Linked DNA regions of Homo sapiens: region 1 is linked to region 2. A link means that fine-mapping ties the variant in region 2 to the expression of a gene that starts in the linked region. Tissue or cell type: whole blood. Region 2 holds a variant in brackets; the other region holds the start of a gene. All regions are shown on one strand. Distances are between the middles of the regions.

Region 1 (8,105 bases), 95 kb before region 2:
TGCAAAAACCACATGCATTTTGATATTTTCTAGACATCTAGATATCTTCATAATTAGAAGAGTCTATCTAAGGTAATGTTCACTTATTCTAGCAGCTAAAAATGAAAACAGTGAAGACCTTAATTTGTAGCCACTACATATATAGCTTAAGTATCCCGGCTTACGGGAGAGAAGATCCCTTTAAAAAAAAAATTTAAATGGAAAAATATCCCAACCAACTCCTCTCCAAAAAGGTAAGTACTACAGAAGATAATAAAAAGCTAAGTCACTGAACTTCTTCAGTTTCATTCATTTTTTTATGTTTACAATGGGACTTCCTTGAGCAGAAGGAACCAATCCTTGAAAACAATCAATTCCTGATCACTCTTTTCCAATCCTGCACTAATGCACTGTCTCACACAAACCGAAAATATGTTCTAAGTCAAAATGTGTCCAGGGGTCGGGCGCGGTGCCTCACGCCTGTAATCCCAGCACTTTGGGAGGCCGAGGCGGGTGGATCAAGAGGTCAGGAAATCGAGACCATCCTGGCCAACATGGTGAAACTCTGTCTCTACTGAAAATGCAAAAACTAGCCAGGCATGGTGGCGTGCGCCTATAGTCCCAGCTACTCAGGAGGCTGAGGCAGGAGAATCTCTTGAACCCAGGAGGTGGAGGTTGCAGTGAGCCATATCGTGCCACTGCACTCCAGCCTGGGAAACAGAGCGAGACTGCATCTCAAAAAAAAAAAAAATGTGCCCAGGGTCCATTATAGGCCTGCACTCGTAGAAATACGAGGGTTGAGATTTCAAATGCTCATCTGCAGGGGAGACAACATATCACACGTGTCCAGGTTACAGTCAGATATGTCATTCTGGAACACTATGCGGGTGCTCAAATACAGACTCCTAAATTGCTCTGACAACAGTAGCAATTCTAGTCCCTTAAATGGCTTGTAGTCATCGTGAAGGCTGAAGACCCACTTCCCCGGTCCTTCTGATTGTAAACCAATGTTTTCCTAAAATTCCCTAGCATTAATTATTTTAATGGTTTGTGGAATTATTTAATGGTTTGTGGAAGCACTTGGGAAACAGGCTGACAATGGAAACTTTGTATTTGAAAAATATTGTAATATCTGTAGAGGTTCTACTCAGGAATACTTTCCATGCTTCCATACTTTCTCTGATTTAGGAGAAAGTTTCTCAAGAGAATGATACTCTCAACAGAAACGGAAAGTTTCTCAACAGAAAGCCTCCATTATTTTTGTGGTAGGTATGAGAAGAATAGGTTGAAATAAAAGGGGAGATGAAAACTTAAGGACTTTAAGTTTTGTTTGAAAAGAAGATCATAATTTAAGTCTGGGTTCTAAACTACGGCCGTTAAAAAAAAAAGAAAAAAAAATCAAGAAAATTCCACTCTTTAACTTGGGGGAAATTTTTGTGAGGTTCTCTTCGTGGGAAGCAGGGATTCGGCCATGGAGGGCAAGTGACTTGCTGATTTCAGTACCCAGAAGGTTTTTTTAAATATGAAATTTGTCCACTATGAGATGAATGTGTATATACTACCCATTCTCTTCTTGAAGTGTCAATGAAAAGTCGGATTTTAAAAGCTAATGGTATCAGTGCTGCAAAGGCAGGCCAATTACTGCCAGTGCCAGACAACTTTTTTCTTTGTTTATTTTTAATCTTATTTCTTTGCTTCTTTTTGATAAAAGATATACCTAAAGAGGCACCTACACATAACCCTGGCACCGTCCGCCGCCCCAAGAACCTTCCTGCTTTACCAATGGCCTGGGAGTTGGCAAACACGCTAACAAAAAAAAAAACCAAAAAAACAAAAAAAAAAAAACAAAACGGGCTTTCGCCTCAACCTCATAGTTCCTCCCCGTCTGCAACCACCGGTCTTCACCGGATTCACAGTCGGAACCGCGAGCAAAGACACCTAGTAGAGCCGGCCGATTCCTAGGTCCTCCGGCCAGGAGGCGCTGCGGGCCAGTCTCCGGGGGCCACCGCAGCCCGCGCGCCCAGCACCCCCACCCTCACGGCAGAGCCCAGCCCAGCCCCGCGGCGGAGCTCCGAGTTCTGCGCCGCCCGCCGGGGTTACTCCCGGTCATTCCACGGCACCACCTCGGCCCAGCTTCCCCATCTGCGCCCAGGCAGAAGCTGCCCCGAGAGACCAGCAGCAACGGTCTGGAAGATGGGGCTGCAGGGAACGTGGGAGAGGGAGGATTGGGCACCCCACCTCCGGGTCTCCGCAGGCTCTCCTAAGTCTTGTTTTTAAAAGAAACAAAACTCGGCCGCGCGCGGTGGCTCACGCCTATAATCCCAGCACTTGGGGAGGCCGAGGCCGGTGGATCACCTGAGGTCGAGGGTTCGAGACCAGCCTGGCCAACAAGTTGAAACCCCGTCTCTACTAAAAATACAAAAATTAGCTGGATGTGGTGACGCGCCTGTAATCCCAGCTACTCAGGAGGCTGAGGCAGGAGAATCGCTTGAACCCGGGAGGCGGAGGTTGCAGTGAGCGGAGATCGTTCCATTGCACTCCAGCCTGGGCGACAGACCGAGACTTAAAGGAAAGAAAAAAAAGAAAAAGAAAAGGAAACAAAACTCGTCCGCGCTCTGCGCCAGGGACACCAGCTCAGCTGAGCGCACGGAGACTGTAGGCAGGACCTCCCTACCCCTCAGGTCAAACAAAGACCCAAGGCCTCTAGTGAGCAATAGCACCACGGACCGTTTGGGACACCTCCAACTCGAGTTCCCGGATTCACAGTCCGGGACTGTGCCGCTCCAGTCCCGGGGAGCATATAGCCAATTCCCAGGTCAGAACAGACCAGCTTCTTAAGAACCGAGTGAAGACTCAGTGCTGGCATTTGTCTCCGTAGGTACTGGCCGACCTGCAACCAGAAGGGTTTCTAGCCAGCTCAGGGCCCTCCGAACAAAGCAGCGCTCGGTGCCGGACCTGCAGCTCTCCCCACCCGGCAGCAGCGCCCTCAGCACGCCCGGGAACCCCCGACCCCTCTGAGCCCGGGGTACTGCGCCCGGGTCTCCACGCCCAGAGATGCTCCCCGGTCTCCACCGTCGGGCAAGCCCCAAGCGCAGCAGCGCAGAGTCCTGGGGTCACCAGAGCTCGTACTAGGACATCGTCTCCCCATTTAACACCGCCTCCGGTCCCATCTGAGTTGCAAGTGGTGGGGATGTGGGGCTCCGGATCAAAGTCCCCGAAACCGAGCACTTCCCGAAGCCTCCTTGGCCTCGAAACAAAACAATAACGCCCAAGTAAGTCACTGGAGAGCCTCTTACCTGTTTTCCACTTTTGTGTTTGCGTCTCTTTCTCCTACCCCTTGACAAGCCTTCCGGAGAAGGGGAGAAAACAGAACCGGGGAAAAAACAAGGAGCAAAGCGCCCTGAGAACCGGCTCTGTTGGTGCGCGGAGCTCCCCGCCCTGCCCTGCCGCAGCCCGGGAGAGAAGGGTCGGCTCGGCTCTGCGGGTCCCGGCCCCACTCACTCTCGCTCGCAATTACGGGGTTTTTGCCGGGACTAGTTCCTTTTATAGATTCGGCTGCACCGAGCGCAGAGGTTACTATCGGTCAAAGCCTGTGCTCTCCCTCCTCCCCGCCCCGTTCCCGGCCTCTGTTTATGTAGTTCAGTCACTCAGCAGAAAGCACGTGGAGCCGGGGCCCGCCCCTTAAACGGGCGACGTTCAGCCGCCCACGACACATCTAGGGAGTTGGGGGGAGGTGGGTGGGGTGGGGGTGGAGGGTACAGCAGGTGTCTTAGGGTCCGCGGTCTGCGTCCCCTTCCCCCGCCCGGGCCCGCCGGCCTAAGACGCGCGGGAAGCGCTGGGCTCGGGGCTGCGCCGCAGACTCTCTAGTCCACGTTCCCGGCAGCCAAGGGCACCAGTGGAATTTGCTTCCTCTAAATCCTGCTTTCCGCAATTTTTTTTTCCTTTGTTAGTTTCCTCAGCCGGAGGGAGGGATTGGGGGAGAGAGAGCTCTAGGCTGAATCTCCCTCAGGACGCCAATCATTTTGTCTTGTCTTTTGTTTCCTTTCAAAGGCCTAGGCTGGGGTGAGGGGAAGGCGGACAGTCCTCTGGGTAATGGGCTGCTTTTGTTTTCCCCCCACAAACCTGGACTTTGATTTTTGATAGGCGACCTACTGCCTTGGAGATTCCCAGCCTGAGCTCCCCAGGTCCCTCAGAGGACCCGAGAGGAACATCTTACTGCTTCTCTTCATAAATTGAGAGGAAGGAGGCCACAAAAACAAAAAAAGAAACAAACAAACAAAAACACAGAACAATATGGACCAGCCCCCTTTTAATTTCATTATATTGATCAGCCTCCCTGTGATAAAAACACAGGACTTGTATTTAGTTTGTATACATTTGTGAAGTGCAGCCAGAGAATTGCAGTCGTGTAAAATTATGTAGCCACTCCAGACCTCCAACTTATCTGTTTGCCTTTGGCTGTAGGGGAGCAAAACTACCCAAAACACTGGAGGGGCAAAAAAAAAGGCAAGAGTAGGAATGCAGGCCTACACACCATATGTCTAAATATTTAAGTCATCCATCAAGCCAACAAACTAAATGTCACCTTATTCTGGCCAAAACTCAGGTCAAACTGTGAAGAGTCTAAATATGAATCTGCCCTGAAGGGCAGATTCATAGAAGACTCAGGACAGACCCGTAGAAGAGGCCCAAGCAGGCCCTGGAAGTGCACGTGGAGGCCACAAGGTCTCCTACCTTGACAAAGATACCTTTGTAGCCACCTTGAAGGGCAGATTCACATTTAGACTCTTCACAGTTTGACCTGAGTTTTGGCCAGAATGAGGTGGCATGAGAGAGCTGCCCCAAGCCTACTTCTCTTCCCACCTCCAGCTCCATCATATTCCAGAACTCCCACCACCTGCATACAGACATTCAGCTGCACAAGCCCCCTCCATGCTACAGTCAACAGGATCTCCAGGCCACGGCTCAAGCCCAGGTACTCACATCAGTGGTTCTATCAACACTCAGGACAGACCCATAGAAGAGGCCCAAGCAGGCCCTGGAAGTGCATGTGGAGGCCACCAGGCAAGGAATTCTGGAGTCCCAGGTACTCATAACTCTGGGTGGCATGGCCCCTTTGCACCATGGACTGTTTGCCCTTAGAAAGGGATGGATCTGAGCTGGGCGCAGTGGCTCATGCCTGTAATCCCAGCACTTTGGGAGGCCAAGGTGGGCAGCTCACCTCAGGTCAGGAGTTCGAAACCAACCTGGCCAACATGATGAAACCCAGTCTTTACTAAAAATACAAAAATTAGCCAGATGTGGTGGCGAGCGCCTGTTATCTCAGGAGGCTGAGGCAGGAGAATCGCTTGAACCCGGGAGGCAGAGGTTACAGTGAGTCGAGATCATGCCACTGCACTCCAGCCTGAGTGACAGAGCAAGACTCCGTGTCAAGAAAAATAAAAAGAAAGGGATGGATCTCAGAAAGGCCAGAGATGAGCTTTCTAAAGCCCAAGGCCCAGGAGAGCGGACCCCCTTGCCTCAGTCAAAGAATAACCTTGGTCAATAAATTGGGTTTTGGGGTCAAACTTGACAACCACATGATGAGCAATTTACGTAAAGTCTTTCTGCCTCTGTTTCATCTTGTTTTTTTCTTTTTTCATCTTTTTTTCCTTCCTTCCTTCCTTCCTTCCTCCCCCCCTCCCTCCTCCCCTCCCCTCCCCTCATCTCCTCTCCTCTCCTCTTTCTTTCTTTCTCTTTCATTTCTTTTTTTTGAGACAGGGTCTTGCTCTGTCTACCCAGGCTGGAGTGCAGTGATCCAATCATGGCTCAGTGTAGACTTGACTCCCTGGGCTCAAGCGATCCTCCCACCTTAGCCTCCCAAGTAGCTGGGACCACAGGTGCATGCCACCACACCCATCTAATTTTCGTATTTTTTTTGTAGAGACAGGGTTTTGCCATGTTATCCAGGCTGGTCTCAAACTCTGGAGCTCAAGCGATCCTCTGGCCTCAGCCTCCCAAAGTGCTGGGATTACAGGCATTAGCCATTGTGCCCGGCCTGTTTCTTCATCTTTAAAATGGAGAGAAGATGTATATTCTGTCTTCCTCAAAGGGGTTTTCTGAAAGTGAACTTTGTTGAAACCTTTGAGCTCCTTGGCAGAATGATGTTATAAAAGCAGAGAGTGTTATTAAAAGGTGTTATCTTTCCTAGCATGATTTTAGAGAGTAATTAGATCTCCCTGACCCTCCATCTCCTCTCTCCTTCTTCTCCTACCTATTTGAAGTCGACCACCAAAATCATTATTTTTTTTTTAATTGAGATGGAGTTTCACCTTTTGTTGCCCAGGCTGGAGTGCAATGGTGCGATCTGGGCTCATTGCAACCTCCACCTCCCGAGTAGCTGAGATTACAGGCACCTGCCACCATGCCCGGCTAATTTTTTATATTTTTTAGTAGAGACGGGGTTTCACTATGTTGGCCAGGTTGGTCTCAAACTCCTGACCTCAGGCGATCCACCTCAGCCTCTCAAAGTGCTGGAATTATAGGTGTGAGCCACTGTGCCCAGCCCAAAATCATTCTTTTTGGAATTTTGAAGCATATAATTCCAAAAGGTATGAAGGTAATCACTTAGATTGCTCTAATAAGGGAATGGGAACAGTTAAGTCCTATACAAATAAGACAAAGATAAGATACTACAAAAAGGGGATGAGCCCAAGAAAAAAATCAAAGTCCCAGAGAGAGAACAGCCATTGATTCTAAATACACAAGTCTATGGCCCCAACCCAAACTTGTTTCACTAAGAACAACCTGTGGTTTCGAGAATCTGGTCATCCCCCACAGTGAATACATGAACACATTGTAATGTTTGAAATGTTTATTTTTCTTGTTGATTTCTTACTGTTAGAAGAGCTAAGTGATTTGGCCCAAAGTGGCTAAGTGATTCGGCCAGTTTGTACACAGGGATATAAGTTTGCTGACACCAAGCTCATACTTTACAAATGTAATATCTTCATAAAACAAAAATACTGGGCCGGGCGCGGTGGCTCACGCCTGTAATCCCAGCATTTTGGGAGGCCGAGGCGGGCGGATCATGAGATCAGGAGATCGAGACCATCCTGGCTAACAGGGTGAAACCCCGTCTCTACTAAAAATACAAAAAATTAGCTGGGCATGGTGGCAGGCGCCTGTAGTCCCAGCTGCTCGGGAGGCTGAGGCAGAAGAATGGTGTGAACCTGAGAGGCAGAACTTGCAGTGAGCCCAGATCACACCACTGCACTCCAGCAGAGCAAGACTCAAAAATATATATATACTGAATCTCAAAAGCTAGAGCCTAAGAGATGCCCCTTAAAAAAGAAGCTTACAAGTGTGAATTTTCTTCCCTCCAGCCCTTAGGTTGGTTTGTCTTTTAGTATATTTCAATAAGCTTCCCCCTCCCCATCCCATCCCTGCCCCCCACACCAACACCAAAACCCCAAGTCCCTCCTCTAGGTGACTCCTTCCAAATACATAGGAAGGCCCTCCTTTGTTGCTGTTTTTCTGGAGAGGCTGATTCTGTAAATGTAGCCTGGGTGGCTTGAGGTTCTATTCTGAGATGACCCTGGCATCTTCTAATTACAGAATCAACCTTCAGGCAGCTGTGGCCTTGCAGACTCTGCTGGAGGTCATGGAACTACAGAAAAGCTCAATCTTATCATTCTATTGAGGCTTTTAAATTGGAGATTACCTAAATGGCATTGTTTGGAGGTTGCTTTGATATATGTTAACTCATCTGCATAAATGTACATGTACACATTGTTTAAAATACCAATGATACTGGTTGCTAGAAACTCTGAAAAAATAGAGTAATGCAGGAAGTCAATGAAGAATAAAAAATAATATATTTTAAAATGATGTTTTAAGATGAATTTGTTATGATTAAGAAGACCTGGTGGGGCACGGTGGCTCATGCCTATAATCCCAGCACTTTGGGAGGCCAAGGCGGGCAGATCACTTGAGGTTAGGAGTTTGAGACCAGCTTGGCCAACATAGTGAAAACCTGTCTCTACTAAAAATACAAAAATTAGCTGGGCGTGGTGGTTTGCACCTATAGTCACAGCTACTCGGGAGTCTGAGGCAGGAGAATCACTTGAATCAGGGAGGTGGAGGTT
Region 2 (8,105 bases):
TAATCCTAGCTACTTGGGAAGCTGAGGCAAGAGAATCACTTGAACCTGGGAGGCGGAGGTTGTAGTGAACCAAGATTGCGCCATTGCACTGCAGCCTGGGCAACAAGAGCAAGACTCTGTCTCAAAAAAAAAAAGGCCAGGCACAGCGGCTCACACTTGTAATCCCAGCACTTTGGGAGGCCAGGGTGGGTGAATCACGAGGTCAGGAGTTCGAGACCAGCCTGGCCAACATGGTGAAACCCCGTTTCTACTAAAAATACAAAAATTAGCTGGGCGTGGTGGTGGGTGCCTGTAATCCCAGCTACTTGGAGGCTGAGGCAGGAGAATCACTTGACCCCAGGAGGCAGAGGTTGCAGTGAGCCGAGATCATGCCACTGCACACCAGCCTGGGCGACAGAGCTAGACTCCTTCTCAAAAGAAAAAAAAAAATAGAACTACCATTCAACCCAGCAATCCCATTACTGGGTAGATACCCCAAAGGAAAACAAATCATTCCACCAAAAAGACACATGCACCCGTATGTTCATCGCAGCACTATTTACAATAGCAAAGACATGGAATCAACCTAGGTGCTCATCAATAGTGACCTGGATAAAGGAAATGTGGTACATATACATCATGGAATACTACACAGACATAAAAAAGAACAAAATCATGTCCTTTGCAGCAATATGGATGCAACTGGAGGCCATTATCCTAAGCAAACTAACATAGAAATATAAAACCAAATACCACATATTCTCTAAGTGGGAGCTAAACGTTGGGTACTCGTGGACATGATGATGGAAACAACACACTGGAGAATACCAGAGGGAGGAGGTAGTGAAGAGAGCAAGAGTTGAAAAACTACCTATTGGATACCATGCTCACTACTTGGATGACGGGTTCAATCATACTCCAAACCTCAGCATCATGCAGTATACCTTTGTAACAAACCTGCGTATGTGCCCCCTGAATCTAAAATAAAAGTTGAAAAAAAAAATGTGTGTTCTTGTCCATTTAGTCTCTCTCTCTCTTGGCTGGGGTAGTTCCCTGAATTTTGAGATGCAGAATCTATAGAATGAGTAGAGACATAAGAAGCAGGGGAAGAATTTAACGAGATACCCAGTTTTATAAGAGATCAAGTTTTTCATAAGAGCTGGGCTATAGTAGAAAAGGAGACAGAAGAAAATGGACGGTGAGGACATTATGCTAAGAGTAATCAGTCAGTCGCAGAAGGACAAATACTGCATGGTTCCACTTACATGAGGCATCTAAAGTAGCCAAACTCATAGAAGCAAAAACAGACAGTAAAATGGTGGGGGAGAGGGAAAGTGGGGAGTTGCTGTTCAGTGGGTTTCAATAACGCAAGATGAAAAGGTTCTAGAGAGCGGCTGTACAACACTGCACCTATGGTTAACGATAACGTGCTATACACTTAAAAACTGAAGAGGGTAGATCTCATATTATGAGGGGTTTTCTTGTTTGTTTTTTGTTTTATTCTTATTTTAAAAAGGAATTAGTAGAAGAAAATGGGGCCAGGGCTGAAGGCGGAGGATGGGAGTTTGGCACATGAGAGATTCCAGAGCAGATTCAAGATATAACAGAATTGGAGAGTGGAGGAAGGAGTTTTTGAGATGTGCGGTTCTGCGCTGGGAACTGGATCCCCTTCAATAATTTATAAGAGACATGAATAAAAAATAGAATCAATTTTTAATAACTTTGGAGGGAATTCTTATTTCTTCTTTAAATGTGACTGTGGATAGAATGAACTGCATGAGCATCAGGAATTTGTTACGGTTGCATATATTATGTCCTGTCTACAATTAGAATGATAAAGTCTTGGGGAAAGTGCAGGCTCCAAGTCAAGTTGAATAGCCTCTGCCTCTTACTAGCTCTATGATGTTGGGCAAGTTTCTTCCGCTGACATGGAGGTCATAATACCTACTGCGTAAGTCTGTTTGGAGTATTCAATATGAATGAGATTACATAAATGATGGCACCTATAGAGAATGTGACAAATAGTAGCTGTACCATAACTGTGATTGCTTTCAGAATGACTCAGACCAGGGAACCTGTTATGGTCGCAAGGTCTCAAACTTCAGAGATCATTCTAATACTTAAGGAAAAGGACTATATTAACTGCTTTCCAAAGAAATGGAGGCAAGAGATGGCTCAAATGCTCTAAGTTCTGCAATCTCACCATGCAGTACACATCCCTAAAGCTTTGTAAGTTTAAAAGTTCCTCTGTGTAAATTTAAATTCCAATGAGTTACTATTTATTCACCCATCAGATTGGCAAAGATGGAAAAACTAATAACACGTGTTAGCCAAGAGTGTGGAAAAATGTGCACCTTCACACATTGCTGAAGACAGCACAAAATCACATAACCTCTGTGTAAGGTAATTTGACAAAATCTATCAAAATTTTAAACGTACCTTTTAACAGCAAGTTTATTTCTAGTAATTTAGCTTACAGATATTCTCCCACAAAATGATATATGTATGATGGTAATATTTGCAACATTGTTTGTAATACCAAAAGCTTGCAAACAACATATATGTCAATCTAAATGAAACTGGTCTAATAATATATGACTTTTATTTTATTTTATTTTATTTTATTTTATTTTATTTTAATTTTATTTTATTTTATTTTATTTTATTTTATTTTATTTTTTGAGGCACAGTCTCACTCTGCTGCCCAGGCTGGAGTGCAGTGGCTCGGTCTCTGCTAACTGCAACCTCTGCCTCTCGGGTCCAAGTGATTCTGGTGCCTCAGCCTCCTGAGTAGCTGGGACTACAGGCGAGTGCCACCACGCCCAGCTAATTTTTGTATTTTTAGTAGACATGGGGTTTTGCACGTTGGCCAGGCTGGTCTCAAACTCCTGACACTCAAGTGATCTGCCCACCTTGGCCTCCCAAAGTGCTGGGATTACAAATATGAGCCACCGCACTTGGCCCCAAACATATTTCGACAATTGATTCTATGCAGCATTTAATAAAAATAAAACAGCTCTGGGCCAGGTGCAGTGGCTCACACCTGTAATCCTAGCACTTTGGGAGGCTGAGGCAGGTGGATTACCTGAGGTCAGGAGTTCAAGACCAGTCCGGCTAACATGGTGAAACCTTGTCTCTATTAAAAAATACAAAAATTAGCTGGATGTGGTGGCACATGCCTGTAATCCCAGGTACTCGGGAGGCTGAGGCAGGATAACTACTTGAACCCGAGAAGCAGAGGTTGCAGTGAGCCGAGATCATGCCACTGCACTCCAGCCTGACAACAGAGCGGAACTCTGTCTCAAAAAAAAAAAAAAAAAAAAACACAAAACGAAAAACAAAACCATACTGCAGGCCAGGCATGGTGGCTCATGCCTGTAGTCCCAGCACTTTGGTAGTCAGAGGCGGGCGGATCACCTGAGGTCAGGAGTTTGAGACTAGCTTGTCCAAAATGGTGAAAACCCATCTCTACTAAAATTACAAAAATTAGTCAGGCGTGGTGTCGTGCGCCTGTAATCCCAGCTACTTCGGAGGCTGAGGCAGGAGAATCGCTTGAACCCAGAAGGTGGAGGCTGC[G/A]CAAGATTACGCCACTGCACTCCAGCCTGGGTGACACGACCAGAACTCCGTCTCAAAACAAAAACAAAACAAAACAAAACAAAAAACATACTGCGGAGGGAGGGAGTATTAAAGAGAAGCCTACAGCTTCTACAACTCAAACCAGGAGCTCAATGTTCTTGAATTGACATGGTCCGAAGTGACATCTCTCAGCTCTGCTTCTTTCTGCAGTTGGCCTCTTCTGCAGACAGTTTCTCCACAATGGCTTCAAGCTGCTAGCACTTGCATCATCCACACAGCTTGCACCTCAGAGAAAGCTATCTTTCCTGATAGCTCCTGCAGAAAGGTCCAGTTTGGGTAATGTGCCTGCCCCTGAACCAATCACTGTGGCCAAGGAGATGGAATAGTCTGACTGGCCAGTCTTGAGGCTGAGGTGAGCTAAGCCCCACCCAAATAGCATAGAATGGGGGAACCAGAAAGTTATGTGCCATTAATATTCAGCCTGGGGTTGGGTGCAGTGGCTTACGCTTGTAATCCCAGCACTTTGGGAGGCTGAGGTGGGTGGATCATTTGAGGCCAGGAGTTCAAGACCAGCCTGGCCAACACGGTGAAACCCCGTCTCTACTAAAAATACAAAAAAAAAAATAAAAATAAAAAAACTAGCCGGGCATGGTGGTGGAAACCTATAATCCCAGATACTTGTGAGGCTGAGGCAGGAGAATCGCTTGAACCTGTGAGGCAGAGGTTGCAGTGAGCCGAGATCATGCCATTGCACTCCAGCCTGGGCAACAAGAGCGAAACTCCATCTAAAAAAAAAAAAAAAAAAAAAATTCAGCCTGGGCAAGGAAGAGGAGAGATAGTAGCTTTGATAAGGAGAAACCATCCAGGCTGAGTTATAGGGGCTAGGAATTAAAACGGAGCCATCCAGGGTTTAAAAACGGGTCTCAGAGCTGAATGAAAAGATCTCTGTGGTTCCGTGGAGACTTTTAACGCCACACTCTTTCAATTTAGGAGACAGCCTTCCTGGGCATCTACAGCGGGGCCCAGTGCAACGCTGTGAGCTACAATGGGCAGCCACAGGGATGCACCAAGCAGTCTTTGTCAAAATTGACTAATGCAATCTCCTCTTTTGCTTCAGACATTGAGTCCTAACCACTATTTGTCATCACCTAAACCGTTGGTAGTTTCTCAAAATTTTTCCCTGTTTAACACATCTGAAGGAAATAATACACCTCTGTATGTAAAGTGGCCCTTATTATATCAGTGATTGGGGAGGCAGAGGATGCTGGGATTTTCAGAGGGAAAAGGCATTCCCTGGCAAAGAATGTTAGGATGCTGTGGAGAAAGAAGGGAGGATTAACATTTTTAAAAAGTCGCCTGGGTGATTCTGCTATACCTAGGTAGAAAGGCATTCCTCCCTCTGTCCCATGCTACAGGGGAGAATCAATATTGTTCCACATACAAAATTTTAACCCTATAGGTCATCCAGTGTGACACTAGCCACCTACTCATGGTAATCGCTAACAAGGCAGCCACTTGTAACACAATCTAAATCTTGGGATTGGCCAGGTGCGGTGGCTCACGTCTGTAATCCCAGCACTTCGGGAGGCCGGGGCAGGCAGATCACCTAAGGTCAGGAGTTCGAGATCAGCCTGGCCAACATGGTGAAACCCCGTCTCTACTAAAAATACAAAAATTAGCTGGGTGTGCTGACAGGTGCCTGTAATCCCAGCTACTTGGGAGGCTGAGGCAGGAGAATCACTTGAACCCGGGAGGTGGAGGTTGCAGTGAGCCGAGATCGCATCACTGAATTCCAGCCTGGGCGATAAGAGCAAAACTCCATCTCAAAAAATAGATAAATAAATCTTGAGACTTTACAAGTCCCAAATCCATATCCCATGAGGGCATTTGCAAACATAATGTTAAATTTCTTAATGTTGTGCCTACCCTCTGACCCAGTAAGTCTACTTCTGGGCATTAAATCTAAAAGAAATGGAAATAATCCATACAGAAAGAGCTTTATTGACAAAGCTCTATAAGGAATTACATATAATAATGAAATTACATATAAGAATTTTCATTAATTTACATATAATAAAAAAATGAAGTAGACTAAATTCATAGGAAGAAAGTGATACGAGCTGCTCTGTGTACATCAACTCATCTAACCTATTTAATTCTCACAACAACCCAGTGAGGTTGGTATTATTTTTATTTTATGTATTTATTGTTTTACAGTTAGGGATTCAAGGCACTGTGTAGCAAATACTGATTATAGTTTTATGCATATAAATTTTGCATAAATTATATATACATAAAACTATAATCAGTGTTTGCTATAATACAAATTTATGCAAATTTATAAATATAATTATTAATAACTTGTGTAACAGAAAAATTATTAGGTGGCAATATTAAGTGGAAAAACAAATGGATGATATAATATCAGTTATATAAAATATGCATTAAAAAGGACTTTAAAACATATTAAAATGTTATCAACAGCTATCCTTGGATGGTGAGTTACTTTCTTCTTTCTGCTTTTCTATATTCTGTAAACTGTCTATATTAAGAATGACTGATTTTTAATTTTAGTAAAAATAAAACAAATTGTTTAAGAGTTACCTTCATATACATTAAGACATTATAGTGAATATCCCTGGGTAAGTGGAATTGTGGAGTCTGTTGTTCTTTGTAGTTTCATGTTTTCCAGTGATAAATATTCATTATTTTTGAGAAAAAGGAAAAAACTAATAAAAGAAACATTTTAAAAAGAAATGTCACTTTGGACCATGTCAATTCAATAATTCATTCAAAGCATTTAGGGTTGCCTTCCCTACCCCCTTGCCACCCAACTCTTTGTAACTTAAAATAAAAGGCCATTATCCATTTTGCCTCATAGAAAGCCATTTCTTGCAGGATTGTAAACCACAAACAACGGGAAGACACACTCACTGAGCTGTGCATTTGCAAAATGCATGCAGTCAGGAGTTAGTATGAGCAATGTTTCTCTAAGAGGAACAATGCACATAACTCCCTCCTGCAGAAATGTTTTACCAGTGCCTCATAAATGTGGGCTCAATGTAACTGAGGACAAAAGAAATCTTCAGGTCCTTTGAAAGAGCATTCAGCTTTCAGAAGCCAACAGAGAGAGTTCAAAAAGTTCCAAAAATAAGAATCTTCCATAAGATATCCTCATTCCCAGCCAGTGAGGTGCAGTTTCTGTGGCAGAGGAAAGAGAGCAGATTCTGGAGTCACAGTCCTGTCATTTATCCCACCAAGAAACAGGTAGATCTTCGACTTCCATCCTTCCTCAGTAGAATCTTAGCCCAAGACCCCGTCATCTCTCACTTGGATTGTTGACATGTCCACCTTGCTTTTCTCAGCACTTCCACTCTTTCATCTTTCTAACCTTTTTCTTTACAGAAAAGCCAAAGTGATTATTTAAAAAAATAAATTAGAGCATTTTGCCTCCTGTTTGAAACCCTTGAAGACTGACCCATTCCATCACAAATAAAATGTATATTCCTCTTCATAGTTAAGAAATCTGATAGGACTAGAGCTGCCTTCTCTCCACTGTCATCCTGGGCCTCTGTGACCTCACCAGCGTTCCTGCAGCTATATTGGAGTATTTTCGGTTCCTTGGGTACATTGAGCTTCTTCCCACTTCTGAGCCTTTAAACCAGCTGTGTGCTCTACTTGGAAGAACTCTGCCTTCTCCTTTTATGGTTTCAGCTAAATTTCAGCTCCCTTGAAAGGCCTGTCTGACCACCCAATCTAAGTAGTTCTCCTCCTCCCAACCCTGCCCCCAATATTCTCTACCATTGCACCCAATCATTTCCTATACAGCACTTGTCACAACTTAAAATCGTGCATTTCTACCTTTGTTTACTTGCTTATTGTCTGCTATCCAGAGTGTAAGATTCATATCTGGTTTATTCACCACTGTATTACTTTCAGTGTGACTCCAGAATAATGCCTGGCACTTAATAGCTGTTTAAAAAAATGTTGAATGAATTAATTAATTCAACTGCTTATTTATAATGTGTCCTTGCATAGGTTTCTTGTCCTCTCTAGGATTCCGTTACTTCATCTGTGCAATGAGAATACTAATTCCCCATCTATAGATAAATGTTTATAAAAGGTCAAGCACAGTAGCAGGTACAGAGAAAGCTCTCCTGAAACTAGCTTTTGTTATGAAGGCTACTATGGGCCGGACAGGTAATAGAGAAATCCCATTTTTATCTTGTGAACTGATATATGAGCTACTGGTGTTGTAAAAAGCACATAATGGGTCCTTGACAAATGTCTGATCGATGAATCAATTACCAACTAAAAACTTTAAAATTCTAACCTATAAAAAGTTTACCACATGCACTGTTTATAACTTTTAAAATTGAATACAATTTAAATGTCCATCAATAGGAGAACAGGGAAATAAGTCTGGTATATACATACAATAGAATTATGTCTCAACGTAGATTGGGCTATAAAAATTATTAGTTTACAGCTGGGTGTGGTGGCTCACGCCTGTAATCCCAGCACTTTGGGAGGCAGTGGCGGGCAGATCA

What was found. PIP is the estimated chance that this variant, and not a neighbour inherited with it, causes the effect.
Region 1: ABCA1 starts here. The variant in region 2 is fine-mapped to the expression of ABCA1 in whole blood (TOPMed, PIP above 0.99).

What each region holds. Positions count from the first base shown.
Region 1 is chr9:104,924,660-104,932,764 of GRCh38, forward strand. ABCA1 (ATP binding cassette subfamily A member 1) reads right to left here and starts at 3,496. Exons shown (of 50, transcript NM_005502.4): 1 at 3,276-3,496. LOC105376196 (a long non-coding RNA gene) reads left to right here and starts at 2,130. Exons shown (of 3, transcript NR_188620.1): 1 at 2,130-3,251; 2 at 4,849-5,065. RefSeq lists silencers at 1,890-2,129, 3,466-3,655 and enhancers at 2,806-2,865, 3,186-3,265.
Region 2 is chr9:105,020,132-105,028,236 of GRCh38, forward strand. No RefSeq gene overlaps it. Among named protein-coding and RNA genes, the nearest start is that of CT70, 32 kb to the left of the region's middle. The variant G/A (reference allele first, on the strand shown) is at 3,556.